Linked DNA regions of Homo sapiens: regions 1, 2, 3, 4, 5 and 6 are each reported to be linked to region 7. Evidence: microRNA targets listed by miRTarBase, many of them from high-throughput screens and not tested one by one. Region 7 holds a microRNA gene; each other region holds the end of a gene's coding sequence. Distances are between the middles of the regions.
The links. The annotated mature microRNA hsa-miR-4695-3p reads UGAUCUCACCGCUGCCUCCUUC and lies in region 7 at 2,567-2,588, shown strand. An mRNA with a match to its seed (bases 2 to 7 or 8) in the 3' UTR can be bound and repressed. Matches are read on the target gene's strand: a 7mer-m8 pairs with bases 2 to 8, a 7mer-A1 pairs with bases 2 to 7 and ends in A, and an 8mer does both.

Region 1 (4,067 bases), 91 Mb from region 7:
GAACAAAGAACTGACGCTATCAACAATTACACAGACTTGGAGGCAGATCCTTCTCCCACTGAGCCTGGGGATGAGATCAGAGCTCTGGATGACACACTGATGGCAGTTTTCAGATGAAACCCTGAGCAGAGGACCCAGTTCAGCTGTGCCCAGACTCCTAATCCACAAAACTTTGAGACCATAAACATGTATTGTTTTAGCTGCTAAATTTGTGGGAATAGTGTAGAAGTCTTCTTTTGCCCCTGGAGTATGGCAAGGTTCAGGCTATTGTCCCATGACCACGAAAAATTAGGCACATGGACATGGAGAGTGAGTAGGGCAGAGTAGAATTTATTGGGAAAAAGGAAAGCTCTCAGCAAAGACAGGGGTCTTGAAAGCAGGTTGCCAGTAAGGCGTCTGTGTTCTGTGTCTTTTATGTGGCAGAAGCTGGGAAGTCTTCTGTGGGTTTTGCCCAGATGAGAGAAGTAACATTTTCTTCTTGGGGTACTACAGCTGTGCATGCCTAAGTTTTGCCAAAGGGACTCCATCTTGGTTATTACCCATGAGTGCCTAAGCAAAACCCATGGGGGTGCTAAAACCACAATGCTAATGTCATGTTTAATGACATTATAATGAGCTGGGTTAAATTAGGGACATTTAGGCTGATTTATTGTGCCCGCACCAAAGTTGGGATGGTCACTTCTGAGCAACATCCTAGCTTAAGGGTAACTTCTTCCGTTTTTCCTATTAACTGTAGAGGCAGTATAGGCACTGTCTTGCCGTTGTTCTTGTGAACATAGTTCCTTTCTATCCCTTCTCCTGAGACCTTCCCTCTCTATGTGCCTATCCATCCCTTAACTACCTCCTCTCTTAACAGTGTTACACAGCAATAAATAATGCATTCCCTTTTTGATTTCTGGTCATATCATCGATCTAGCCCCAGGGGCATCCTCAATTTCTCTGTCCTGCCTTAAATACACAAGGGTAGAGCATACCGCTCCCTCACACTATGGAAATTATATCAATAGTTATCAGACTGAAAAACTTCTGAGCTTTATACCTCTTCTGGCCAAAGGCTCCCCCATGCCCAAGATACTGGCCTGAACACCTAATCCCTGCTCACAGGGGGTGGCAAAACATGGCAGTTGAATTGTCTGCTTAGCACCTTCTGTCTGTACTATTCCTCCTGACATCACTGGGTATCCCTGCCATTTGGGCCCTCTGACCATCACTAGAGAGATCCTTGGCTTCTGGTCCATAGGGGATGGCAATCTGGCCCACAGGCCTATCTCTGAAGACTATTCAGACTCTGCTCTGTGAAAGGAGAGTGGTGCCAAGTCATCTCCACAGGAGTCAGTGTTTCTTAAGTTTGCTTTCTTTTCTAAAAACTAGTTTCTACTACACAAGCAATGCATGAGCACATTCTCTTAGTTAGAAAAGCAAGTCTTAGCCTTAACTTGGAAATGCCCTTTAACTTCCACCATGGAGTCTGGGCCTTTATCCCACTTGCCTGCAGTAAGACTGTTATGAGTTTGGTGTTTCCCTCCAGACTCTTCTCTATGCTTGGAGATCTTTTTTATTTTTTTAAGAGACAGGGTCTTGCTCAGTCACCCAGATTGGAGTGCAGTGGCAAGAACACAGCTCACTGCAGCTTCAAATTCCTGGGCTCAAGTGATCCTCCCACCTCAGCCTCCTGGGTAGCTGGGACTATGCATGAGCAATTGCGCACAGCTAATTAAAAAAAATTTTTGGGAGACAGGGGTCTCACTATGTTGCCCAGGCTGGTCTTAAACTCCTGGCCTCAACTGATCCTCTCACCTCAGCCTCTGAAGGTGTTGTTATTACAGCTGTGAGCAACCACACCTGGCCTGTTTTGGGGATCTTTGCATGTTAGTTCACACAGTTCAGTCTCATTCTTCCGTTGCCACATGGTACTCCATAGTATTGACAGGTATTTACACGGTTTCCACTTATTTGTCATTACAGACAATGCCACAGTGAACATCTTAGTATATGTCTCTTTGAATGTTTTTTTTTTTTTTTTTTTTTTTTTTTTGAGACAGAGTCTCGCCCTGTAGCCAGGCTGGAGTGCAGTGGCGTGATCTCGGCTCACTGCAACCTCTGCCTCCCAGGTTCAAGCAATTCTCCTGCCTCAGCCTCCTGAGTAGCTGGGACTATAGGCACATGCCACCATGCCCAGCTAATTTTTGTATTTTTAGTAGAAACGGGGTTTCATCATGTTGGCCAGGATGGTCTCGATCTCTTGACCTCGTGATCTGCCCACCTCAGCCTCCCAAAGTGCTGGGATTACAGGCGTGAGCCACCAAGCCCGGCCATGGATGAGTTTTTATAGCATGGAATTGCTGGGTCATAGGATATGATTTAAATTTTACAATTGTCCTCCAAAGTAGCTATACTAATTTACAACTTGACCAGCAGGAAATGCATATCACTTTCCTAAGCCTTGCCAACACTTTAGAAACTTTTTACTCATCGGATAGAAGGAAATATGGTTTCTCACTGTTGTAATTGATAATTCCTTACATCATAAACATCTTTTAGACATTTTTGGCTATATTTCTATTTTATAAATTGTTCATGGATTTTGTCCATTTTTAAAAACTCAGTTGTCTTAATGATTTATAGGTCTTTATATAATCTTTATACTAGTGCTTTTTGTCTCACTTGTCATTTATTTGTGGGTGCCTTAGGAAAAGTTGTAGAATTTGATCCTATTCAATTGGCAAATCTTTCCTTTGTGATTGTTATTATTTTAAAAAGTAAAAGAATAAAGAATGGCTACTCCACAGGCAGAGCAGCCTATGGTTTTTTTCTTTTTACGTCTTTAAAGAAACTTCTCCTACCCCGTGGTCACAAAAATTCTTACATTTTCATCAATATTTCAACAGCTTTGTGTTTAATGTTGGGCCTTAAATTCCAGATTAATTTTAGTGAATAGTGTCAAGTGGGGCTCTATTATTTTTAATGAGTAAGCAATTGTCCCAACTCTATTGGCTAGCCCACCAGTCTGAAATACTGCCTTTATCACACTAAACTCCCATGTGTACACAGGACGGTTTCCGAACTCCGGTTAAGTCCATCAGTACCACAGTTTTACTTGTGTTATCCTCACCCAGTCTTCACAGGGACTCCAGTCCCATTTAACACACCTGCTCTCTCCAACTGTGCAATCTCGTTTTTTCTAGTACCCACTCTCAGGGCTTGGGCATGAACCTACAGCCCTTGAACTCAGTTGGGGAGTAGGGAAATGCCAGTATCGCAGCGATTCAATTCATATCTTGATGATTCTCCACATATCCTTTTTCCCTTTTAGCCTTTATACCCAAGAGAAACTCAGCTGGACACCAGTAACATAAGTGCTATTCATTGAAAAGAGCAAAGCAAGAGCGCTGACCCCTTACGGACAGGATGAAACAAAACAAGCTCTGCAAGTCTGCCTCCTGCTCAGCATACAGGCTTGTTGCCCCACTGGGCCATCTTGTTGTTGATGGGCATCTTGCAGAACTGATCAGACTGTAAGTAGGCAGCGATTTTCTCCAAAGCCTGAAAGGAAAATACACCAAATCTTATAACGACCCCAACCCAGTCCAACAGATGCATACCAGAACAGCAACATTCACGTGTTGCCTGCGTCTACCTCCTCCATTTTTTTGTAGACAGTGCCTCCAAGGTATAGAAGTTAGGCTCTTCCCAAGACTTAAAGGTCTAGAGGTGTCCAACCATTGATCCCATTAGGCAAAAGCCGGGGAAGAATCCTCCACTATGGGATCCTGCAGGTCCCAGGGGAGCCTGTGAGTGTTTTTATAAGAGAAAGGTGCAGGAAACGTCACCTCAAAACGGCACATGAAAGCCTTCAGGTTTGGGAACTCATCCAGGCACTTGGGGTCAAATATACGGTTCTGATCCAAGATATCATAGGTGAGAAAATCCACAAAGGTGAGCTAGAAGAAAAGCAATAAGATGCTTAGGTCTGAGGAGTAGTAGCCTGCAGAGATAGAGAAGTATCCTCTTCTTTTCCCTTCTTCCTACCTTTTCCCCGGCAAACCATGAGAATTTCCCCAGAAACA
Region 2 (4,067 bases), not on the chromosome of region 7:
GTTGTTGTCATGGAGTTTTTAAATATTGCTTCTAAGAAGAAAAACAAGACCTTGAGTGAAGATGATTTTAGGAAATTCTTTCAGGTATGGAAAAGGTTTGATCCTGATAGGACCCAGTACATAGACTCTAGCAAGCTTTCAGATTTTGCAGCTGCTCTTGATCCTCCTCTTTTCATGGCAAAACCAAACAAGGGCCAGCTCATTGCTTTGGACCTCCCCATGGCTGTTGGGGACAGAATTCATTGCCTCGATATCTTACTTGCTTTTACAAAGAGAGTTATGGGTCAAGATGTGAGGATGGAGAAAGTTGTTTCAGAAATAGAATCAGGGTTTTTGTTAGCCAACCCTTTTAAGATCACATGTGAGCCAATTACGACTACTTTGAAACGAAAACAAGAGGCAGTTTCAGCAACCATCATTCAACGTGCTTATAAAAATTACCGCTTGAGGCGAAATGACAAAAATACATCAGATATTCATATGATAGATGGTGACAGAGATGTTCATGCTACTAAAGAAGGTGCCTATTTTGACAAAGCTAAGGAAAAGTCACCTATTCAAAGCCAGATCTAATACCACTTACCACCTCTTTTCATATTTCTTCACATATCTGAAAAATGTTGAAAGCCTAAGCCAGGAATAAAAGAAAAGTAGAGATAATAATCAGTTCTTTACAACCGATGGTAATTAAGCTTGTATTCACAAGACTTCATGCCAAATTCACTTTTTAGCATTATATCTAACAAATCAAGAGAATCCTTAATATTGCTGCAGTGAGTTTAAAGTGGGTTAAAGTGGCCATTTGACAATCTCATATTTGTTTTCTCTACATGGCTTATATGATGTGTGCCTTCTAGGGAATGAAGGGAAGTGGTGATAGAGATCAGCAGCAGCAGGGGCTTTCTTTTATATTTTATGTATAATTTAATGGGCTTTAAGTCACCACTATTAAGACTTACAAATAAGCAAATACTTTCCTGATGTGGGATGGTGAAATGCTAATGGCCATTAAATCATAAACTTGCCTAGACAAAAGCCAATTGGAAGAAGGGAGAGAGCAGTTCTTTAGAAAGTGCCTTTGAGATCAACCTCAGAGATTCTTGGGCTGATTAAAACTGCATTTGAAAAAGATTGGTTGAAGCTCTGTGTTTATTTTTGTATGTTCTTGTTTTCATTTGGAACTGGGAATGAATAGGATTTCATTGTGCTCAAGCTCCTGGTTTCTCATCTCTGGATAGTTTCACCTAAGCTCTGGCTCTTAAGCAGGACAGATTCGTAAAACAAGAAGCATAAAGGAGAGGTATAGCCTTTTTTTTTTTTTTTTTTTTCATTTTCTTCTCATTTACACCTATTTTTTTAAAAAGTATACATTTACTAAAATGATGTAATAAATAACATGTTAATAGACTCAAGCTTTACCTTATGAAATTGATGTATTTTTACCAGTTATTTCTAATGTAACATTGAATATATAAGATCTGACAAATGTATGTTTAAACATGAATTAGAAGAGTTGAGAACTACCATTATGTATAGGGATTCTCATAGTGTCTTGGCCCTTAATTGGAAAGTTGTGGCAACTTTAAAGTACTTTTTACTGTATGTTATAATTCTTTATAACTTAGAGAGAGACAATGGTCACTCAAACTATGAGAACTATGAATTAGGAGATAAAAGTTTAAATTTGTTGTTGTTTTATAACAGTATGTACAAGTTAGTTTTCCCTTATATATTTACGTTTTCAAGTTTTTTAATCTCATCATATACATCCATACTCTATAAAATGTTTTATATTCAAAGAACTGTAAAATCCTAAACATTAGTTTTCACTATTGAAATTGTTTTTTAAAGATAGGCATAAATAGTTGTCCTTAGACTTATTCATACAAATATAGTCATTTACTTCTATGTAGTTTGAGATTCTGAGAGTTATTCCAACTTTATGAAGATTGATTTCAATGTGCCTGCTAAGTCCTAAAAGATTCAGAAAGAAAATTTATATATTATTGATTTAAATATCATCCTTTAAATATGTTGTATAACATTCAATATAGTTTATGTATCAGTGATTGTATTTTATTCTGAATGCATGATCTCAAGCCTTAACTACTATAATCTTTTTCTGCCCCTCAGAAATTGAATAACCTAACCAAGATGCCTTTAGGGGATGCCCTAAGTAAATGTAATTTCAGATTTCAGGGTTTTTTTTTTTTCCTCTCTAAGTGTTCCTTCCCTTTCTTCTCCTGCTCTCCATCATGTTATGGAGACCAGTGAGGAACCAGTGTTAACTTGGTGACAATGTGACAGCTGGTGCTTTATCTAAGCTCCGTTTTCTATTTCTTGGGAATGCTTTATTGTGGAAACTGCTTCAGATACTTAAATTGAATCATAACTTGCTTCTGTAAATTGCGTAAAGACAACAAACTGATTTTAGTTTGAAAAGTTTATCTTTTACTTGTAAACCTTGTTTGCCAGTTACCTTCCGAAAGCTGTGTAAAGAGTTATTTTTAACAAAGTCTTAACAATATATGTTACTTTTTAGATACTATAGAAAATAATAAATATAACCTGTAAACCACATTAAGCTATGTTTGTTTTTAATTTGATAAATCACATTGGCAACTTTGTGTAGTATACTTTTTAAAAATAAGCTTTACATTAAAGTTTGTTAATTCAGGCTTAAAACTGGAAACAGTTGTGCTTTCTTTAGATCACATAATTTTGTAAAATACATTTTAGTAAGCTTACCAGTGGCCCCTACACATTAACAAGATGTAAAATGATCACTCTTCTTATCAAAATTATAATGATAATTTTACTAGATATATTTTCGTATTATTAGAATTTGCTTTCTGGAAGATAATACTGAAATTAAATTTATTGGTACACTACTATTTATCAATTTCTGCATCTTCAAAAATTTTATTGTGCTTCATTAGTAAATATAATACACTTGAAATTGTTTTAAAGATAATGGTAACAGCTACCATTTATTGAGCACACTTCTATGCCCAGCCTTATCGTATGTATTTATCGTGCATGAAGAAGTGATCACTCTCAGTTCATGAGTGAAAAAAGTTAGGTTTAGAAAGGTTATGAAGTTTTTATATGGCAGAGACCCTATAAGTAAAAAGGCCAGGACTCTAAACCAGGTCCAGTTACAGAGCCTTAATGTGTTTTCTCTCACACTCGCTCTCTCGCTCGCTCGCTCTCCATCTCCCGCTGTCCCACTTTCCCCATTTGGTGCAGTAAATTTTAAAAGTAGAGACATTCCCTGGAAAAAGGGAAGTCATAAGGGATAAAATTATAGAAGTTGAAAAATTCAACGTTTTGTGAATGCTGAATACTAAAGGTAAACTCAGATCCTATTCAGATAAAGATATATCTGAGACTGAAGGGCTTACTGACTACTGGGGGGAAACGTAATATGCAGCTGGTTATAATATGTGATAATTTTTATACTGTGAGTGTACATTGTAATACACATATAGGCAGGAATGATGGGTTCTGTGTTGGATATCAGAGGTGAAGTGAGTAAAGTGGGCTCCTGCAGAGAAAGGAGGACTTTGTCAATTAAAGAAGGCAATTTTATTAAACACAGAGGCACTTTTAAGGAGAAGAGTCCACCACAGATATGAGACCTAGGCATCCAGCTTATAGTTCTTCAGCCTGGAGGATAAAGAGATATGAACCAAGGAGACGATGCAATCCCTATTGCAGAGATTAGCTAGAAAATCTGAGCAGAATTACTCTGGACACCTCAAATCCCTTCTCAGACATGTTTTATTTTTCCCTTTGGTTTTTGAACTTTCTCTTCTGTTGTCTGTTCCTTTCCATAAATTCTGGGTCTGCATTCTTAGCTATGATGGTTAATAAAGAACTCCAATGAATGATTTGAGTCTTCACAAGTGGAAATTTTCATCTTTATGTTCGGTAAACTAAAACTTTCAGGCTTAGACACTTAATCATCTCCTCATCTGTATGGAAACCTCTGTCTTCAACTACTTATAATCACACACTGACTCAAATAATTCTATCTCAACTCCAGCCCTAGGTTCTACTCTCTA
Region 3 (4,058 bases), not on the chromosome of region 7:
AGCCTCTCTAGCCCAGTGCTGTTTCCAGAGGCAGCAGTGCATGGAGATTGAGGAAAGAGGCTGCCTCTTTCAGCACCAGTCCTGCCCCTTTGTATCCAGGTGTTGCTATCACACTTCATACTCATTCACAATATTTGGTGCTACCTGTTTTTTCTGCCCCTCTTCCTCCCACAGGTAATCCATCAGCTGAGGCTCTCAGAGAATGAAAGTGTGGCCCTGCAGGAACTCTTGGACTGGAGGAGAAAGCTCTGTGAGGAAGGACAAGACTGGCAGCAGATCCTGCACCACGCTGAGCCCAGGGTGCCTCCCCCACCACCTTGCAAGAAGCCCAGCCTTCTGAAGAAGCCGGAAGGGGCCTCCTGCAACAGGCTGCCGTCTGAGCTCTGGGACACCACCATTTGATGTGGCCTGAACTGCAGACTTACAAAATAGAACTGCCTACTGATTCCGGGCTGCAACAACAGAAGGCTGCCTTCTGACATGCGCTGGGGCTTCTCTCCACGCATTTAGACAAAAAAAGCACAGGACACAGACACTAAATATATGAGATCCCGTGTGTGTGTGTGTGTGTTTGTGTGTGTGTGTGTGGGTTCTTTCTTATCCATCTCGTGGTGATACACTCTGATTTTCAAGCTCCTCATTTACGGCTCTGTGCTACCCCTAGGTAGCAAGAGAGAGGCTGGGAAAAGTGTGGACGTGGCCAGAGCGAGAGAGTAGCGGAGGAAAGGAGCAATCCATGCACACTCTGTACAGTTGTTTTTCTACGGTTCAACAGTCTGTTTATTGTACTTCCAATGGTTTTATTATAATACAGTATACGGGACATATATTTTATTTCTTTGTAGCTACTTGTGTTTTATTGGTATTATAAACCTGATAATTATTTACATGTTTATTACTGTAATTTTATAAATTTATGCAATTGGTGGTGCTTCCTTTCTTCAAAATACAGATTTTAAAAAATCATTTCTAGATTATTTTTTTCCTCCACAGTCCTTTTTTTTCACCTAACGCACCTAAATCTTGAAACTACATTGTTGTTTTAGCTTCGCCAGTGTCACCCCTTGCAAAACTATGAATTGAGCCCCATGTTTTAGGTGTTACTCATGGATGAGGAGGCTGTTCTTTCCTATGCCCTGTATTTCTGGATAAGTGGATTGTGTACCCTTTAGTTAAATTTCACCTCCCGACTTCAGCATAGATCACAGGAAATCACATGGCACACGGTTAAACACGTATGGCTTCAAATCCATAGCCGGTGGTGTAAAATGATCATATTCATTCAAAGGCCTACACAGTACAAATGAGCACGCTGCCATGTACTGGTTTGAGCAGTAGGGGCTGCATCGCACAGCGCTCGTCCCCCGGGACTTACACTGCATGATTCCCTCACTGTATATCCTCAACCCTCCCATAATGCAAGGCCTTGTTCATTGATGTGCTTTCGTCGGCTGTCGGAAAGTTCTGAGCAGTGGCTCCAGACCACCTTGTCTTGCTACTTGGAACTTTTTATTCATACCAGCCTTTGAAAAGTTACTGTGCCAATAAAGAGGTACAACTGTGTTCTTCTATTGTTTTTGTTGTTGTTATTATTGTCTCCCATGAACTCTTGTGTTTTCTGGTCAGAGAAGTAGGGACAATGAAGTGATCTCACCCAGACTCCCTTAATGTGGGGGCCATAGCATTGTGCAAACTTTAGACACCAATGATGTTTTACAATACAGGCTTTATGATGATTCCAGTATGGTGAGACCAACAGGTCTGGAAGGGAGTCCCATTGAAAAGACGGCTTGTCATCCTCAGAAAGCTCAGAGAAGAGGACACATAGTGCCATCAGAGGGCCACACCAAGGTCAGCCAGGAAGCAGAGGGCATAGGGGGAGCCTTTTATTTTAGTTTGCACAACACTAGGAAAGGACAAGGCAGGATCAGCAGGCATAGAACTGACTGCTTTGAGAAATATCGGTGGGTTCTGGGTTAGCGGAGCCATCCCTACCTGTCTGGGACCTAGCCTTGAGGTGATTAGGGTGGGTGGAGAGTGGCCTGGAATGACAGCCCTATGAGAGCCCACAGGGGAGACTTACTAGGGATGTGGGCTCTAGATTGGTTGACTTGTCTTTGAAAATCATGTTCTGGGGTGAGTCATCATTATCTTTTGGACGTGGCTAACCCTGGAAATGGCAATTCCTCCAAGGTCAGCAGGGCCCCAGATGCCAAAGCATCAGAACACAGCAAATAAAAGCACATGGTCAATATGTAGTTACTGCAATGTTACTGCAGCCACCCAGCAACCACAAGGAAGTGTTCTGCCTGACCTCCAGCCTGACGACAGCCGAGTCCCATTCCCTGCCTATTTCTCTCATGTTTTTCCCTTCTGACTTCCACCCCCGCGAAGAAGCAATGGAAGAAGCCAACTTTCCCTTGATACATGGCTTCTTGGGCCATGCTATGGACATAATAGGCACTTAATGATCTTAGTTGAATTAAAACTTTGAATTGCATTCTCCTCCCCACAATATATTTAGGCCAGGGTGAAAAATAAACTGTTTAAGCATTGCACATTGCAAGAACTTGCTTCAAATGTTCACTGAGCATTGTGCTGACTGTGCGAGGTGCTCAGCCCATGTGATTCCTAAACTGGCTATTTTGGTTAGGGCTGCTGTAACAAATGGCCATCAGCAGGGTGGCTTCAACAACAAGCATGTATTCCCACAGTTCTGAAGCCTAGGAAGTCCAAGATGAAAATTTCCACAGATCCCGTGTCTGGTGAGGGCCTGCTTCCTGGATTGCAGATGGCCATCTTCTCATCGTACCCTCGCATGTTCAGAGAAGAAGGGGAGGAAGCACCCTCTCCGGTGTCTCTTCTTATAAGGGCATGAATTCCATCACGAGGCCTCTGCCCTCATGACCTAATCATATCCCAAAGACCCTGCCTCCAAATTTCATCATACTGGGGATCAGCGTTTCAGCATAGGAATTCTGGGAGGACATAGTTCAGTCCACAGCACTGACATATGCCTACAAGGTAATTTTTATCATTTTTGTATTGATACTGAAATTGAAGCTTATAGCTTTAAGCAGCCCATCAGATATAAACTCTCATCTTTATGATTCCAATGTCCATGCCATTTTAATTTGATATACAGAAATTGCCAACTTACTTTATGAAAAGACACCTGAAATGATGATGCATGACCATTGTAGGGAGACCTTACGTGAAGTAAGGAAGTCACAAGCCACATGTGTGTCCAAACCACACAACTCCCTATTAACCCAAGTTGAAGCACTGGGGCCTGTGTCATCACTAGGTAAACATTACAGTCACCTATTAGGGTACTATGAGCATCATGAACATGAAATATTTAACCTCTCAGTAGTCCCTCTGCCTCATTTAAGGTTTGTTGACCTTCAGACACTAGAAGCCAACCCGCTTGTAGATAGATTGTTTAAACACAATCTTCTAAATCAATGTGGACAGACCCTTTAAACACAATCTCCTTAATCAGTAAGTAAGCCCTTTTGTGTTTAGTTGTTTGGATTCTCCGCTGTGGAAAGAGATTGCAGGTGTGTGTTAATCACTACATTAGGACCATCTGATTGTGCCTGTTCTAATTACATGATATGAAAATCAGCAGAGGCTCAAAAGCATCAATAGCCATGACAGTAGTAACAGTATTAACAGTCACAATAATACGAAGTCCAAGCCTTCGTGTGGATTAAAGTTACTCTCAGAATGGCTCTCTAATGATTATACTTTGTCAAGAAAATAAAGAGGTAATATTCTGGGTAATAAAGTACTGAATATTATTCTACATAAGCAAGATTTCAGCTTTTATGTGTGTTTGCAAAATATTTAATGGTGGTATTTTAATTGCCATCAGACCATAAGGTATGAATTAGGATGTATTATTGAGGCTTCAAACTTATGTTCAGCAATATAATTGGTATGAATTATTACCCTATGTTCAAACACTGCCCACTTCTATTGCTTTTTTAAAAAAATTATTTATGAGAGCTCTCTAAAAACCACTATCCAAATGTTTACAATGAGTTAAAATG
Region 4 (4,067 bases), not on the chromosome of region 7:
AGTGAAGTTAAAGATTATGCTTTAGGAAGGATGGTACATAAAAAAAGATTAATGGCATTCATTTGGAATTATAGTTAATGGTATCCATTATGGGGGGTACTTTTTAAAAAATACTCTGGGTAAGCTGTTAATTTAAAAAAATATTGATTTTGTAACTTGTTTATTTTTTAAAAAATGCAAAATATTCTGGAATGCTATTACATCAAGAACTTAGAGCTTTAAATTATATATAAATCCTGTTCATATGTATTTGTTTATGTGTGTGCCTCCTAAGTATAGTACCAAGTTTCATAAACTAGTATTTCTGTACTCTTATTTTTCTATCTCAGCTTTCCCAAACTCAGAAGCAAACCCTCTAAATGCCTATTATTTGAAATGTCTTGAAAACCTCGTGCAGCTCCTTAATTCTTCCTGAGTGCCATGGGATGCTACACCTTGAAGCTGACAGTCATCAACAGGGGAGCTAAAGTTGAAGCCAGCTGTGTGTAGCAGCTGTTACCTGAAGACGTGCTACCTCTCTACAAAGTGTTGATCCCCTTCTTTCCCATGAGAGAGAGAACTGGTGATACTCCAACACCGTCCAGTTGTGGCAGCTCTCCAGAAGTAATAGCAGCTGACAACTTTCTGTGCCTTTTCCTTTCTGTTGAAAAGGCATAGAAAGTTCTGGGAACATAAACATTTTTACCCTTTTCTATGCCATTTATTTTGTAAAAATCCTATTTAACAGTTATTTAATAAAACAATATTTTTAGAAACTAAAAATTGACTAATAATTGCTGCTTACAGACTTTTATCAGTCTCATGAATATTAATTTTAGGAGTTGAAATAAGACACTGTGTCCTGGTTGTTTCTCTCTTTTTTTAAATTTTAACTGATGTAAAATTTGGCTCTGTCAGTGCAAATCCTTATTTTCAAAACTTTCTGTTATCCAGAGCATCCACACTGGAAAAGGGCTATGTAGAAGTAAGTGTGCATTATTTGTAAAGGGCTGTGTGGAAGTAAATGTACATGATTTGTAAGTAGCTTTCTTAGGCAAGTTTTAGTGATGTTATCTTCTTCCTAGATGACTCTTAAATCATTACATGTATAATCTTCACCGTTGTCTTCTGCAAGGCTGTGTAATAAAGAAGAAAGAAATAGAGTTGGGGCTGTATAAGCCTGGGTTCAAATTTAGCTCAGCCCAAAACATCATGAAGAATAGAGTAAGACTGAAAAATGCAGAAGATGGCCGGGCTTGGTGGCTCATGCTTATACTTTCAGCTCTTTGGGAGACCGAGGTAGGTGGATCACTTGAGGCCAGGAGTTTGAGACCAGCTTGGGCAACTTGGTGAAATCCCATCTCTCCTAAAAATACAAAAATTAGCCATTCCTGGTCTTGAGCGTCTATAATCTCAGCTACTCCAGTGGCTGAGGCACGAGAATCTCTTCAACCTGGGAGGCAGGGAGGTTGCAGTGAGCTGAGATCATGCCACTGCATTCCAGCGTGGGTGACAAAGCAAGACTCTGTCTCAAAAAAAAAAAAAAAAAAAAAAAATGCAGGAGGAACAAGCTCTATACTCTATTACATAATCTTACTTAACCTGTAGTTTTGAATTCCGCACTTAAACCAAAATCAAGTACTAATCACTTTCAGCAACTTTCCCAACACTTTTGAAAGTGAGAAAATTGTGTGTAAGAGAAATAAAAGGTGAAGTATTAATATATATATGTTTGTATATACATATATGTCATATACATGTATACATATATATTCATTTAGGATAATGTTTTCAGAAAAACTGAAAGAAAAATATCATTTTAAGTGCTGTTAAATTGCTAACAGCAATAAAATAAGCAATGATGTTATTTAAGCTGGAAGTATGACAAAATTTATGTTAAATACAGAAATAGTAACAGTTAAGTTTGTAATGTCTGAGAATTAATTGATTCGAGATCTGAAAAATAAATCTAGGAAGCTCAGAAGTTTCTGAGCTGCCCAAGTTAATGTGTAGCGGAAAACTCGTCAATTCTGAGAGCAGGAATCTTGGGAATTATTTTTCCCTTTTCTCCCGATATCTTATATTTTTTGCCATTTTTCTGGAATTCTCTAATCAGCCCTCACTGATAAATAAATGAAATGAATTTCTAACTCCCTTCATAACTCCTTTATAACTCCTCCTTCTATGTCCCAGCTATTATTCTCGGAACTTTTATCATTTAATCTATCTTTTTCTAAAATACTACTAATGTCTTTGTGTTCCAGGTGAATAAGCGGAGGCGCAGAGCGGTTAAGTAATGTGCTCATTGACTGTGGCTGGTTATCAGTGAAGTGGAGGTTGGAACCCAGGATAACTGCGAAGAAGTTTGCTTTTCTTTATAAACCACTTTTCTTTATAAACCATTTATTCTGCCCCTCTACCACCCCCACTGAAATATCTCTTTTTGTGTTTGAATCTTATAGATAAACACCATTTTTCAACAAAAATTTGTTCTCTTCAGGGAAATTATATTATGGTTCATTGATTGACTGATTCACATATCAGAGTAGGCACTACCTCATCTTCTTGGAACCAGGAAGAATTGTTGTAACTGATCATTTTCCCTAGCAGTTCACAGTAGTACCAGAGGGAGATTTGTAGCCTAGTAGTCAGAACCACCCAGAAATGTTACCTGCCAAAGCCCAGGAGGACTGCAGACCTTGGAGAAAGGAGAGGGGCCATGGCTTTAGGGGAACTTGCGTTTGCCTCTCTTGGTGTCCAGGAATGTGAAGCTCGGGTGCACGCTGTGGTCCAGATCCTGGGGGACAGTCCTTGCAACTGGGTCTCCTGGGATTATGCACCGTCAGCCAGTGGGGAAGACGTCTCAGCAGGAGCCTTGAGGTGACTGGCCCACTGCTGTAGCAGCTGCCCTGCCTCTCCCTTGCGGACCAGCATCAGAATCCTCAGGTGTGTGCACTGAAATGCAGATTCCTGGGCTCAATGAGGCAGACTTGTGTCTAGGAGAATTTTTAGCAAGCTCTCCAGGTTCTGCTCACCACAGTTTGAGAACCACTGATTAATCCCCATGATTACAGAAAACTGCCTAGAACACGAAAATTATTTCATATCACTTAACTGCTGCCTGATGAAATCAGGACTTGAATCTGGGTCTCTTGAATGTGAACCAAGTATTTTTTCTTTCACACCTGCCCAAGTTTAAGCAAGGATCCAGGAAATAGGTGCAGGGGACTAGTTCATACTTCATGGTGTCCAATTTCTCCATATCCTAGCATTTTTGGTGGGCTGAGTTAGTGTATGTGCGCTATGGAAGCACAAAAAGGTAGTGCCACGTCACACATGAAGTGCAGACATTGATACTGAGGCTTCTGGGCTTAAGACTTGAGCAGTTTGAGGGAGGAGGCAGCCATTAGTTTTGAAAACAGGAAGCTAGTAGGAAAGTGGTGTTAGCAGACCTGGCTAGACCCTTTTGCCACTCTTCCTAAAAACACTTACAGAAATGAATAGCTGAATGTACCTCTTTTTTTGGTGTTCTATAAATAATGGAGCAAAAAAAAAAAAAAAACAAAACAGAATTTTGCCTATTTAACTCCAGATCACCAATTTTCCTTTGTAGTGTTAAATGGACTCTTCATCCGTGTCATTTTGCATCATCAGTCTTTGGGGCTGCACCTTGTGTATTCCCCATTTCTTGAGGTTGCCAGAGCCCCAGGTCTGCTTCTTGACCCGTGATGTTCCTCGGATTTGCCAGAGTGATGGGTAAGAGTAATGACTGGCATCCCCGCTTCTGCATTAAGATCTGCTTGCAGTTATCTCAGTGAATGAGAGAGCATAATAGAGCGGTTAAGAGTAGAGGGCTCTTGAGTCCTGTGGACCAGGAATTAACCCTGGCCTCACCACTGCAATTGTTGGAAACCTGGGACAGGCTCAAGCTAACTGGGGTTGAGGACACCTACCTTGTGCAGTTGGTGAGAGGACTGAGTGCTTAGCCTGGTACATAGTTATCCCTTAGATGTTATCAGTGATTTTTTATTCTTACAAAATTCTCAAAAACATCTGTTTAAGCAAAAACTTCAAATCTTTTGTGTCCT
Region 5 (4,057 bases), not on the chromosome of region 7:
GCATGCATTGCTTCAACAGGATTTGCGTGCATTTCCCATGATCCTGCATTCTTGTGTTCTTGATAGCATACAGACTTACTCAGAATCAACAGTTGCTGCTTAATTTGTCTATTTTGTAAGCTTAGGCTACTATTTTATTAAAACTGGACATAGATACTTGGCTGAATACAAATAGTTTTGCAGATTGCAATATAATAAAGGAAACAGTAAAAACTAGTGGGCTATGCTTAGGTTTTTCTTGAAACCTAACATTGCTTTAGGCTGGGTGCCGTGGCTCGTGCCTGTAATCCCAGTGCTTTGGGAGGCTGAGGTGGGAGGATCACTTGAGACCAGGAGTTTGAGACCAATTTGGGCAACACAGTGAGACCCCATCTCTAAAAAAATTTTAAAAATTAGGCAGGCATGGTGGTGCATACCTGTAATCTCAGATACTTGGGAGGTTGAGGTGGTAGGATTGCTTGAGCTCAGGAGTTTGAGGCTGCAGTAAGCTATGATCACGGCCACTGCACACCAGCCTGGTAGCCTGGGTGAAAGGGGGAGACCCTGTCTCTTAAAAAAAAGGGCTGGCCTGTAATCCCAGCACTTTTGAAGGCCAAGGCAGGCAGATCATTTGAGCCCAGGAGTTCAGGACGAGCCTGGGCAACATGGCAAAACCCTGTCTCTACCAAAAAATTAAAAAATAAAAAATAGCTGGGTGTAGTGGCACATGCCTGTAGTCCCAACTACTCAGGAGTCTGAGGTAGGAGGATCAGTTGAGCCCGGGAAGTCGAGGCTGCAGTGAGCCATGTTGGCACCACTGCACTCCAGCCTGGGCAACAGATTAAGACCCTGTCTCAAAAAAAAAAAAAAAAGTGAAAAATAGATAAAACAGGTCTTCATTGTTACCTGTGAGAAATGGCCCTGATTCTATTACTCTTATATGCCAGTTTGTTTATAGATTTCTGTGTGTTTGATTTGAACTTTTTTTTTTTTTTTTTTTTTTTTGAGACAGACTCTCACTCTGTTGCCCAGGTTGGAGTGCAGTGGTGTGATCTCAGTTCACTGCAACCTCTGCCTCCCGGGTTCAAGCAGTTCTCTGTCGCAGCGTCCCAGGTAGCTGGGATTACAGGCGCCCACCACCACGCCCAGCTAATTTTTGTACTTTTAGTAGAGACAGGGTTTCACCATCTTGGCCAGACTGGTCTTGAACTCCTAACCTCAGGATCCACCCGCCTCGGCCTCCCAAAGTGCTGGGAGCCACCGCGCCCAGCCTGGTTTGAACATTATTAAGCTGTTGAATATAAACTTGAAAATAATTTTCTATGATACAGCTTTCAGGTAGAAAAATGAATTTTCGTTGTGTTTAACAATGTTGTGTTTAACAGCTTATACAAATAACACAGTATAAATGGTAATTGCCACTGTCATTTTAAAAATCAGAAAATAGTAAATAAAAGGATGTGGAAGAGTCTCATGTGATACAGTGGAGATTTCATACCGAATAAAAGCATTATAAATATGGTTAAATTGAACATAAGCATAAATTTAACGGAACTCATTAGAAAAAAATAAGCCTTTTTTCTCAGGTTTGTTTCATTACTGTATGGTGAGACAACTGATTCACCACGATTTAGTCTAGAGCTACTTTTCTATTCTGAATAGTTTTTGGTAAAACTATTGGCTGAATTATTAGGCTGTTATAGTAATCTGCCTCCGTCAAGTGTATTTTCTTGGGTTAAGGAAAAAAAAATTTTTTTTTAACTATTCACGGAAGCTGGATGTTCTTCCTTGTCATTTGAATCAAGGCCGTCTAACAGGAATTGAATAATTCAGGGACTAGCATTTAACCCATATCAGGTCTAGGCAAGAAAAGACATACATTAGGAAGCCTTAGGATATCATTAAACTGCCTAGGGTAGTCAAAATTATTGAGTAGACACCAGACCTCAGTGGATTACTTAAGTAAATGGGGTCAGATGTCATCATGAAGAAAATTAACAGGAAGAAAATGAGAGTACAGAAGAAATGTTTTGAAAATAGAGTGAAATACAACTTTGAAGACCATGGCTGAGAAGTGCTAGGAATAGTGGCAGCACATCAACCAGAAATGGTGTTGAGCTGTAAGAAACAGACGTCAGGCTTCATATTGCCCTTGTGTCCAGGGGACAAGGATGAAAAAGCTTTTTGATTAAGAGCAGTAGACCAAATCAAAGCTAATTATGTCATTTTGGCCAGGCGCAGTGGCTCATGCCTGTAATGCCAGCACTTTGGAAGGCCAAGGCGCTCAGATCACGTGAGCCCAGGAGTTCAAGACCAGCCTGGGGAACATGGCAAAACCCTGCCTCTACCAAAAAATACAAAAAAATTAGCCAGTATAGTGGCACATGCCTGCAGTCCCAGCTACTTGGGAGGCTGAGGTGGCAGGTTTTATATATATATATAAAAAACACATATATATATATGTGTGTGTGTGTCATCATTTTAAGTCTCACTGTGCAAAGCTATGAGTCCTCAATACTTTGGACTACTTAGTGTAATATATTAGTTGTTAGAATAGCATATATATATATATATATATATATATACATACACATACATACACATACAAACATAGTGCAAAAAGATGTTTCAGGGAAAACATCAGTTTACAACATAATGTCTTTCATGACTCAAGTAAAAGCTCACAAGTAATTTCTTCTGAAACCCAGATCACTGAATTACAGGTTTGCCTATAGATGTACCAGGTCAAAGGCTGTGCCAGAGAGAATGAAATACTAATTATTTTCAGGCTGATAGGTTCAGTTCCTGCAAAGCCTGTAGGTCTTGCTCTACCCTTTGACTGCCTTAATCAGCTGCCGAGCTTCATGCCATTGTTTACAAGGGGAATTGGGTGAATAAATGTAGACAGATTACAGTAAATCCACGTTGCCTGCAAAAGTGACTAAGGTGTATCCTTTACTGATAAAGTAAGGATGAAATGTGGAAACATATAATTAAATTATAAATTACCAAGCTTTTGTGATAATTCATATGCTTTTAAATATTTTGAACCTAAGTGTTACCCTCAAAATGTTTTAAAATATAAAAATCAAGAAATAGAGCAAGCAGGAAATGGGATTTTAAACATTTTGATTTCAAGAAATAGAACTATCTTAAATATGATGCTGAAACAATCTGAGAGGCAGGAGATAGGACTCAGGCAACAGAGATCCGAGGAAATATATATGGGCATTTTGTGGTTCATTTTTCTTGTGTGGCATGTGGTACAACTGAAGCATAAATCTTTTTGATATCATCTAGTTTTGCCAGAGGTATGGGACAGTTCATATTCTGTCCATAAGTTCGGCTACTTACATAAACTGAAATACAAGTGCAACTCCAAACAGGTTTTTTCTTTTCTGGACACCATCATCAAGCATGGAAGACTGGATCTGGAATTTCCCTTCATATCTTGCCAGTTGGCCTCCCAGTTTCTTGCTTATGTTTTCTCCTGGTGTGTTTTCAACATTGTAATTGTTTTCAATCAACTGTATAAGTTTTATTTTCTTCAAAGCATCTATTGATTCCTTTTTTAAAATCATGTCTCCTAGCTCCTTTAAATGTTTGGAAAACGGTAGTTAAGTTTCTTGGTATCACAGTAGTACTTCTTATTATCCAAAGCTGGAAGGATGCTGCTGCCAGTTAGCTGGGGTAGGTACTGCAACTAAAAATGCAAAACACAGAATTAGGTTCAAAACTGTGCCATGCATTTTTTTCATTATTTAGAATATATCACAAAAGAGGTAATTAAGCTTTTTAGTATAGAAGTACTTTTTTTGCACACAATCCAGGACTTGAGAGAGGATTAAATGTTTCAATTTCGTCTTGGCTTTTCCTTTTAAATGTTTATATTAAAAAGGAAAAACATTCACATTAAAGAAGATTTAGAGAATATGAAAAGGGGAAAATCTACATGTTAACATTATTGGGAAGAAAACATAGATTTACAGGAGTTGAGAGCTTGCTGAGATCTTAGGGATCATTTAAGCCAATGCCTTGTCTTATAGCGGAGAAAACTGATAAACAGAGCACCTAGGCA
Region 6 (4,067 bases), not on the chromosome of region 7:
CCTTCCAGATAAGAGGTGCTGGGTCCCTCAGGTGGGAAGGGACAGCCTGAGTAAAGCCCAGGGCTGAAACACAGCCTGGTTTGCAAGAACAAGCAGTTCTGGGTCGTCTGCCCTGGGTGGGGCTGCACCTTGGACCCAGCCTGTAGGCAGAGGCTGGCTAGCCCCCGAGGACTTCAAGCAAGAGAGGGACAGATTTGCCTTCTGTGTAGAGACCGCCCTCTGGTGGCCACATGGAGGATGGCAGGAGAGAATGGCGCCGAAAGAAAAGCGGCAGGCTGAGCTCATAAAGCTGCGAATGCTGTTCCTTCTTCCTCTTTTTCAAAAGACGGATTTTGGGCCGGGCTTGGTGGCTCACGCCTGTAACCCCAGCACTTTGGGAGGCCGAGGCGAGCGGATCACGAGGTCAGGAGATCGAGACCATCCTGGCAAACACGGTGAAACCCCATCTCTACTAAAAAAAAAATACAAAAAATTAGCCAGGAGTGGTGGCAGACGCCTGTAGTCCCAGCTACTCGGGAGGCTGAGCCAGGAGAATGGCGTGAACCCGGGAGGCGGAGCTTGCAGTCAGCGGAGATCGCGCCACTGCACTCCAGCCTGGGCGACAGAGCGAGACTCCATCTCAAAAAACATAAATAAATAAATAAAATAAAATAAAATAAAAGACGGGTTTTGCTCTGTTGCCCAGGCTGGTGCTGTGGTGCAATCTTGGCTCAGCCTGTAACTCCTGGCCTCAAGCGATCCTCCCACCTTGGCTTCTCAAACTCTGGGATGACAGATGCATACTACCATACCCCGCCCATCCCCAGTGTCTGGAAAATGTGCCCACTGGAGAAATCTATTGGCCGGATTGTGACTGGTTGGATGCTCCCACGGCAGGAAAGGGGGAAGGACAAGTGGCCACGTCGAGGCCTGCCTGAACTCCAAGGGTATCCAGGCCGAGGTTGCTCAAACCCAGAGCTGATTTATTTTTATTTTTATTTGTTTTTATTTTTTGACACAGTCTTACTCTGTCGCCCAGGCTGGAGTGCAGCGGTGCAATCTCGGCTCACTGCAACCTCCGCCTCCGGGTTCAAGCGATTCTCCTGCCTCAATCTCTGGAGTAGTTGGGATTACAGACACCTGCCACTACGCCCAGCTAATTTTTGTATTTTTGGTAGAGACGGGGTTCACTATGTTGGCCAGGCTGGTCTTGAACTCCTGGTCTTAGGTGATCCTCCTGCCTCGGCCTCCTAAAGTGCTGGGCTTACAGGCATGAGCCACCATGCCTGGCCTGAACGAAACATTTCTATGCTCCAACTTAAAATGAATGTAGAACTTATTATCTGAGAATGACCCAGGGAAGTCATGGGACTGCCCATATTTTCATGCAATAAAGGGAAAATTCTTCCCACAAATAAATTTTATAGGACGGTAGAAGCAAATATAGGGCATTCCAATTACATTTCAATGAGTTATTCTTGATGAAGTCCTGGATACACAAAGCCAGCCAGCAAATAGGATTGACCAAAGTCAGAGGATGCTGTGACCACCCCAGGGCTCTTTTTGTTTGTCTGTTTGAGACGGGTCTCGCTTCGTTACCCAGGCTGGAGTGCCGTGGCACGATCTCGGCTCACTGCACCCTTGACCTCCTAGGCTTAAGAGAGTCTCCCACCTCTACCTCCCAAGTAGCTGGGATGACAATCATAAGCCACCACACCTGGCTAATTTCTAGAATTTTTTTTTTCATTTTTTTCATTTTTTTTTCTTTTTAGCCGGAGTTTCACTCTTGTTGCCCAGGCTGGAGTGCAATGGTGCGATCTTGGCTCAACACAACCTCCGCCTCCCGTGTTCAAGCAATTCTCCTGCCTCAGCCTCCTGAGTAGCTGGGTCTACAGGAGAGCACCACCACGCCCAGCTAATTTTTGTATTTTTAGTAGAGACGGGGTTTCACCATGTTGGCCATGATGGTCTTGATCTCTTGACCTCGTGATCCACCTGCCTCAGCCTCCCAAAGTGCTGGGATTATAGGTGTGAGCCACAGCAGCCGGCCATAGGACATAAGCTTTTTTTTTTTTTTTTTTTTTTGAGACGGAGTCTGGCTCTGTCTCCCATGTTGGAGTGCAGTGGCACAATCTCGGTTCACTGCAAGCTCCGCCTCACGGGTTCACGCCATTCTCCTGCCTCAACCTCTCAGTAGCTGGGACTACAGGCGCCCGCCACCATGCCTGGTTAAGTTTTTGTATTTTTAGTAGAGACGGGGTTTCACCTTGTTAGCCAGGATGGTCTCGATCTCCTGACCTCGTGATCCGCCCGCCTCAGCCTCCCAAAGTGCTGGGATTACAGGCGTGAGCCACCGCGCCCAGCCTCAGCTGTGTTCTTAACTCTATTTTTCCTTCACTGGGGATGGTACCATTTCCCCGTCCTGTTAAGTGCCCTTGACTGCTCTTACCTTTAGCTCTTGGAATTCCGCCATCTACCCTAACTTCACCTCCATCTAAATCCTGCTCACTCTTCAAAGCCTGCCTCTCCACGCATCCTCCCTCCTAACTCCATCCCAATGCCCAACAGCTCTTTGCTAAGCAGATGCCTTTATTTACAGACAAAGAAGTAAACAGGCAAAAGGAAGAGGCTTGTCCAAGGTCATGCCACAGACTGAACTCTCACTGGGAGGACAGTTCAGGGTCCTGATACCCAATCTAAGGCAGCAGCTTTGTAGCACATCAGGATGGGGGCAGGTCATGCCTGGCCATGTTCACTTCCAGAACGATTATAGCTTTAACAACATTTTTTTTTTTTTGAGATGGAATCTCGCTCTGTTGCCCAGACTGGAGTGCAGTGGTGTGATCTCGGCTCACTGCAACCTCTGCCTCCTGGGTTCAAGCGATTCTCCTGCCTCAGCCTCCGGAGTAGCTGGGATTATAGGCATGAGCCACCATGCCCGGCTAATTTTTGTAGTTTTAGTAGAGAGGGGGTTTTGCCATTTTGGCCAGGCTGGTCTTGAACTCCTGACCTCAGTTGATCCACCTGCCTCGGCTTCCCAAAGTGTTGGGATTATGGGCATGAGCCACCACGCCCAGCCTACTACAGCTTTAACAGTCTTTTTTTTTTTTTTTTTTTTTTTTTTGAGATTGAGTCTCGCTGTGTTGCCCAGGCTGGAGTACTGTGGTGTGATCTCAGCTCACTGCAACCTCCGCCTCCTGGGTTTAAGCAAGTCTCCTGCCTCAGCCTCCCAAATAGCTGGGATTACAGGCACATGCCACCATGCCCGGCTAATTAACAACATTATTTTTTAATTTTTGTAGAAATGAAGTCTCACTGTGTTGCCCAGGCTGGTCTTCAACTCCTGGGCTCAAACGATCCTCCCACCTTGGCCTCCCAAAGTGCTGGGATTACAGGCATGAGGCACTGCGCTGGGCCCAGAACTACCTTTTATTGGAGGCATGGAGTCCACAGTGGGTGGAGGTCTCAGTGCCTTGGGCTCAGGGGCTCAGCGAAAGGCCGCGGCCAGGCCTAGATGAAGGTGAGGCAGGTGGAAGCGGGGACCCCACAGCTTTCCTTGTGCTCCTCGAAGAGCTGCTCCAGGGCCGTCATGTAGAGGGCGTGATAGTGATTGACTTCCTCCTCGGTGGGGTGGAGGCGCTGGGGGACGGGGATGGGGCGGCCCACTGCAGGGAGAGGGAGACAGGTGGGCGAGGGATCCCTGATGCCCACGCAGCTGCTGGTGGCCGTCCCCCCGGAGGTGGGCACTCACCCACAGTGGTGATGGGCACAGCAAAGGGCAGCAGGCCCCAGGAGGTGGCTGAGAAGAGACCGCGACCCCAGAAGATGCAAGGAGAGAAGCCCATGAGCTTCTTGAAGGTGAGCTGGCACCAATGCTGCCAGGAGCCTGTGGCAAAAGCCTTAAGTCTAAAGATGTCATTCTCCCCAAAGGAGTACACGGGCACCAGGGACGCCCTGGGAAGGAGCAAGAGAGAAGAGGGGGCTCAGGCTGCTGGACTGCTCCGAGATGGGCACCCCCAGGGGCTACAAGTCCTTCCCACTACGTCCAGATGCTACCTCCCAGGGTCATTCAAAGCACATGACTATGG
Region 7 (4,067 bases):
CGCTGTTGTTGGCAGCTATGGTGGCAGGGGGCTGAGGGCCCAGGGAGACAGGCATTGTCCCCGGATGGAAGAGAGTGGCCTCCCAGGTCTCTCCTCCCTCGCTCACTCCCCAGGGCCTTTCCCGCTGCAGGTGGCAGTCCCCAACCTCTCCCTCTCCCTTTAGAGCCTGCTCAACAAAGCCATTGAGGCTGCCCTGGCTGCCCGGAAAGAGTGGGACCTGAAGCCTATTGCAGACCGGGCCCAGATCTTCCTGAAGGCGGCAGACATGCTGAGTGGGCCGCGCAGGGCTGAGATCCTCGCCAAGACCATGGTGGGACAGGTGAGGTGCTGGTGGGCCCGGGTGGGTGGGGCGGGGTGGGGTGGGAGTCAGGTGTGCCCTACCCATGGCAGCAGACATCAGCTGAAGCGCTTCTGGGTCCTAAGCCCTTTTGGGGACCCAGAGATGTCCTCAAGGGACAAGGCCTAGGAGCTGGGATGGATGATCACAGATTATTAGGCGAGACAGATTGTGCAGAGCCCATGTGTCCTGCCTCGGAAATGTCCCCTCTCCTCCATCCCTCTGTCCTCGCTCCTAGGCCTTTGTCATGCTTTGCCTGGACTGGTGGTGGCCTGCACTGTCTCCCTGCCTCCTAGCTTGGTCAGCCCCTCGCCGCCCTCAGAGTGGTCTTTCCAACACCTCCAGGATGTTACTCCTGGCTTATGACCCACCCAGACCTCTCCACCACTGAGAGGCAAGTCCCAAGACCTGAGCCCCATACCCAGGGCCCTTCTGCCCACCTCTGTCCAGCTCGCCCACTGCTCTGCATTTCCCTGCCAAGCTGTCCTGCCCATAGTGTAGCCATTTGGCACTTAGCAGGACTCCCCGGCCATGGCAGGCATCCTCTCTGCCTCTGCCCACGTGTCCTCCTGCCTGGAATGCCTGCTGTCTCTTCCGTGCTCAGTGAACTCTTACCTCCTGGTCCAGCCCAGATGTCACCCCCTCCGTGAGACTTCCTGAGCCTTCTCCAGCCGAAAGGACTATTCCTGCCTCTGTTTCCCCAGAGCATGTTGTTCCTGCATCAGTTACAGCTCAGATTGCACTGGAGTGTATTGAGTTCCTAGGTACTGCCCCTTTACAAGCTTTTTGGACATAGTAAACATGTCTTGACATTCTCGGTCTTTTTCTGGGCTTTGCATGATACCTTTCAGGAGGCATAGCAAGCCCCTGATCAATGGTTTTCTCTGCACAGAGCTGGCATGACAGCTCCTCACCCTGCTAAATGCAAGTTGAGTGAGGAGTGGCTCTAGCAGGCAGAGTGTGCGGGGGACAGGAGTCGAGGGAGAAAGGGTTATTTCACCACCTCCAGGACCTGAGCCCTACGCTGCCAACTAACCTGGGTTCCTGAAGGGTAAATTGCAGGAGCCAGAACCCAGGCTGCTTTCTGGATCAGGCATTTGCCACTGCCTGCTCCTCGGTCCCCATGGTGAGCGCCCCCTCTGCTGCACAGAGCTGGTATGACAGCCCCTCAGCCTGCTAAATGCCTTCTTAGATTGGCTCAGCAGCCCTCTGGGGTGGGCGTCAGCTCTGCGTGTTCCTGGTGAGCCGCACGTTGCTGGGAAGACAGTCTAGGATCAGTTTAGGCTTTCTCTGTATTTGGCCTAAGACTCAGGAACTTCTAGGAAGCAAGGTACACATCTTAGCTCAGCTTCATGGGCTGTGTGTCTCTAATAGGTCGTGCACCTGCCAGTGACCTTGGGTGCCAAGAGGAGGCCACGTCAATCTGGAAAAGCCCCGTTCTTGGCTGTCCACAGTTCTTTTCCCTGCAGCTCACATTTGCTGTTATTAAGAATTGACGGTTTAAGGGAATCACAGTCACTCGCCTCTTGGTTTTTGGCCCAAACTAACCAGCAAGGCCGAACATCATTCCTGGGGAAGGAGCCATCCACCTCCCACACACCGAGTCTCTCTCCTGGTTTTCCAGTGACCAATCTCCAGCTCATGCTAATCTGCCCTTCTGTCTGGAAGGCTCTGATCCTGAATTTAGTCTGAGGCTTGACCATAGATCCTTTGCCATGCACCACCATTCAGAGTTGCTATGAAATGAAGACAGTGCATGGCAAGTACCTGGCCTGCTACAGAGGATCACTAAAATTCTTCTGATCCCCGTCCAGCCCAGAGGGCCGGCTACAGGAGGTGCTAGCTCAGGGGCTTGAGAATCCTTTCCCCCTCAGCCCCTGGGATGGGACCTGGTGAGCCCTCCAAATGTTTCCTGGTCCCTCCTGGGGCCCGGCTCAGTGCTCGCTTTGGGCACAGCGTCAGATGTGAGAAGAGGATGGACAGGAGGCTGTTGGCTGCTCCTGACCCCCGGCCCTCTGCCTTGCAGGGTAAGACCGTGATCCAAGCGGAGATTGACGCTGCAGCGGAACTCATCGACTTCTTCCGGTTCAATGCCAAGTATGCGGTGGAGCTGGAGGGGCAGCAGCCCATCAGCGTGCCCCCGAGCACCAACAGCACGGTGTACCGGGGTCTGGAGGTACCTGCAGGAGGCAGTGGGCGAGCAGGCGGGGCAGCCCAATGCCATGGGCCTGATCTCACCGCTGCCTCCTTCCCCAGGGCTTCGTGGCGGCCATCTCGCCCTTTAACTTCACTGCAATCGGCGGCAACCTGGCGGGGGCACCGGCCCTGATGGTGAGATGTGGGCACAGGTGGGACAGCGGCAGCTGGTTGTCCTCCTGGTCCCAACAGACAGACAGAGGCCACCCTGAGCCCCTTGGGTCTCAGCCTAGTCATGGGGAGAGGCACAGAAGGTGGAGGCAGCTTGGGGCTGTGGGTAGGCTTTGGGACCAGAGACCCAGTTTGAATCCCAGCGTCGTGCCTCTCTGCCTGGGAGACCCTGGCAATCCCTGAACTTCTCTGAGGCACAGTTTCCTCATCTGCAAAGTGGAAATAATAGGAAAGCCTCCATGACTGGGTTGTGAGGCTCAAATGAGACACATCCAGCAGCAGGCAGGGCTGGCCCGGAGCTGGCTGAGTGTTGGTGGCTCTGTTGATGATCATTACCGCTGACCTTCAGTGCTCACCACGTGCCTGCTGCTGTCAAGCACGGCATGGAGATGATCTCATTTCATCCTCTCAGCAGCTTCGAGAGGGAGTTGTGACTCTGCCTCTTTGCCAGATGACAAAACTGAGACACACAGCCGTGACTTACTTGGCAAGACTGAGTGACTAGTAAATAAATGATGGAGCAGAGAAAGATTTGGATGTAGTCTCTCTCGGGGTTGATGGTATTCAAGTCACTCCTCTGCCATTATCGGAGTGAGGTTGGCTATTACTGGATGAAGTCCCAGGCCTGTGGGGGAGGTGCAGCCCAGCTCCCAGACAGCCTGGGTGGGAGAGGTCCACATAGTTGTCGGGAACCCCGAGCCCCAGACAGGGGCACTGGATGCTGATGCCGGAGTGTGTACTAGGGACATGGATGGGGACGTCCTCATGCATCTGTGCACAGACAAACACGGTGCATGGCCAGGCGCCCACGTGCCTGGCTGCTGCACATGCCTGACCCAGGACATGTGCTGAGAGAGCCCGTGTGTACTTGCCCCGCCGCGCCCGGTGAGCACTCAGTGACTCTAGCAGTAAGAACAGACCTGCCTAGGTGATGGCAGGACCGGTTGGTGCAGGCTTCTGGGGAAAGGGAGCCTTGGCCAGAGCGTGGGGCAGATTGGGCTGTGCCGTGGCCTCCTTGGCAGGGACTTTTGGAGATAGGGCCAGACGCCTTGGAGGAGTGGGGTCGGGTAGGGGATGTCCTGGTTGGCACAGAGTCTGGTGGTTCCAGGTGAGGGACAACCATGCTGTAGGGTAGGGTGGGGTGGGGGTTGGGGGCTGGTGGCGCCATCCTCATGCATCACTGAAACACCTCCCGGGCAGGGCAACGTGGTCCTATGGAAGCCCAGTGACACTGCCATGCTGGCCAGCTATGCTGTCTACCGCATCCTTCGGGAGGCTGGCCTGCCCCCCAACATCATCCAGTTTGTGCCAGCTGATGGGCCCCTATTTGGGGACACTGTCACCAGCTCAGAGCACCTCTGTG

Region 1: the mRNA of GSTM3 is a reported target of hsa-miR-4695-3p. Seed matches in the 3' UTR shown: 7mer-A1 at 2,079-2,085.
Region 2: miRTarBase lists SCN7A as a target of hsa-miR-4695-3p. Seed matches in the 3' UTR shown: 7mer-A1 at 880-886 and 8mer at 1,080-1,087.
Region 3: miRTarBase lists MYO16 as a target of hsa-miR-4695-3p. Seed matches in the 3' UTR shown: 7mer-m8 at 545-551.
Region 4: the mRNA of RTTN is a reported target of hsa-miR-4695-3p. Seed matches in the 3' UTR shown: 8mer at 1,460-1,467.
Region 5: the mRNA of CDKL1 is a reported target of hsa-miR-4695-3p. Seed matches in the 3' UTR shown: 8mer at 1,029-1,036.
Region 6: the mRNA of MOGAT3 is a reported target of hsa-miR-4695-3p. Seed matches in the 3' UTR shown: 8mer at 3,148-3,155 and 7mer-A1 at 2,821-2,827.

The regions. Positions count from the first base shown.
Region 1 is chr1:109,733,627-109,737,693 of GRCh38, forward strand. GSTM3 (glutathione S-transferase mu 3) reads right to left here. Exons shown (of 9, transcript NM_000849.5): 7 at 4,030-4,067; 8 at 3,831-3,941; 9 at 311-3,543. The coding sequence ends at 3,445. Among named protein-coding and RNA genes, the nearest start is that of GSTM3, 5.4 kb to the right of the region's middle.
Region 2 is chr2:166,402,086-166,406,152 of GRCh38, reverse strand. It overlaps SCN7A (sodium voltage-gated channel alpha subunit 7), which reads left to right. Exons shown (of 26, transcript NM_002976.4): 26 at 1-2,580. The coding sequence ends at 573. Among named protein-coding and RNA genes, the nearest start is that of SCN9A, 28 kb to the right of the region's middle.
Region 3 is chr13:109,206,435-109,210,492 of GRCh38, forward strand. MYO16 (myosin XVI) reads left to right here. Exons shown (of 35, transcript NM_001198950.3): 35 at 175-1,571. The coding sequence ends at 402. LOC124903207 (a long non-coding RNA gene) reads right to left here and starts at 186. Exons shown (of 2, transcript XR_007063864.1): 1 at 1-186.
Region 4 is chr18:70,000,499-70,004,565 of GRCh38, reverse strand. It overlaps RTTN (rotatin), which reads left to right. Exons shown (of 49, transcript NM_173630.4): 49 at 330-1,535. The coding sequence ends at 415. Among named protein-coding and RNA genes, the nearest start is that of CD226, 55 kb to the right of the region's middle.
Region 5 is chr14:50,326,500-50,330,556 of GRCh38, forward strand. It overlaps CDKL1 (cyclin dependent kinase like 1), which reads right to left. Exons shown (of 10, transcript NM_004196.7): 10 at 1-3,682. The coding sequence ends at 3,575. It overlaps DMAC2L (distal membrane arm assembly component 2 like), which reads left to right. Exons shown (of 6, transcript NM_001382507.1): 6 at 1-1,458. Among named protein-coding and RNA genes, the nearest start is that of DMAC2L, 16 kb to the left of the region's middle.
Region 6 is chr7:101,192,457-101,196,523 of GRCh38, forward strand. It overlaps MOGAT3 (monoacylglycerol O-acyltransferase 3), which reads right to left. Exons shown (of 7, transcript NM_178176.4): 6 at 3,731-3,933; 7 at 2,551-3,644. The coding sequence ends at 3,490. Among named protein-coding and RNA genes, the nearest start is that of MOGAT3, 6.5 kb to the right of the region's middle. RefSeq lists an enhancer at 3,215-3,715.
Region 7 is chr1:18,881,725-18,885,791 of GRCh38, reverse strand. It overlaps MIR4695 (microRNA 4695), which reads left to right and starts at 2,517; the gene lies at 2,517-2,590. It overlaps ALDH4A1 (aldehyde dehydrogenase 4 family member A1), which reads left to right. Exons shown (of 15, transcript NM_003748.4): 5 at 164-319; 6 at 2,364-2,513; 7 at 2,594-2,668; 8 at 3,905-4,067. RefSeq lists a silencer at 1,432-1,663.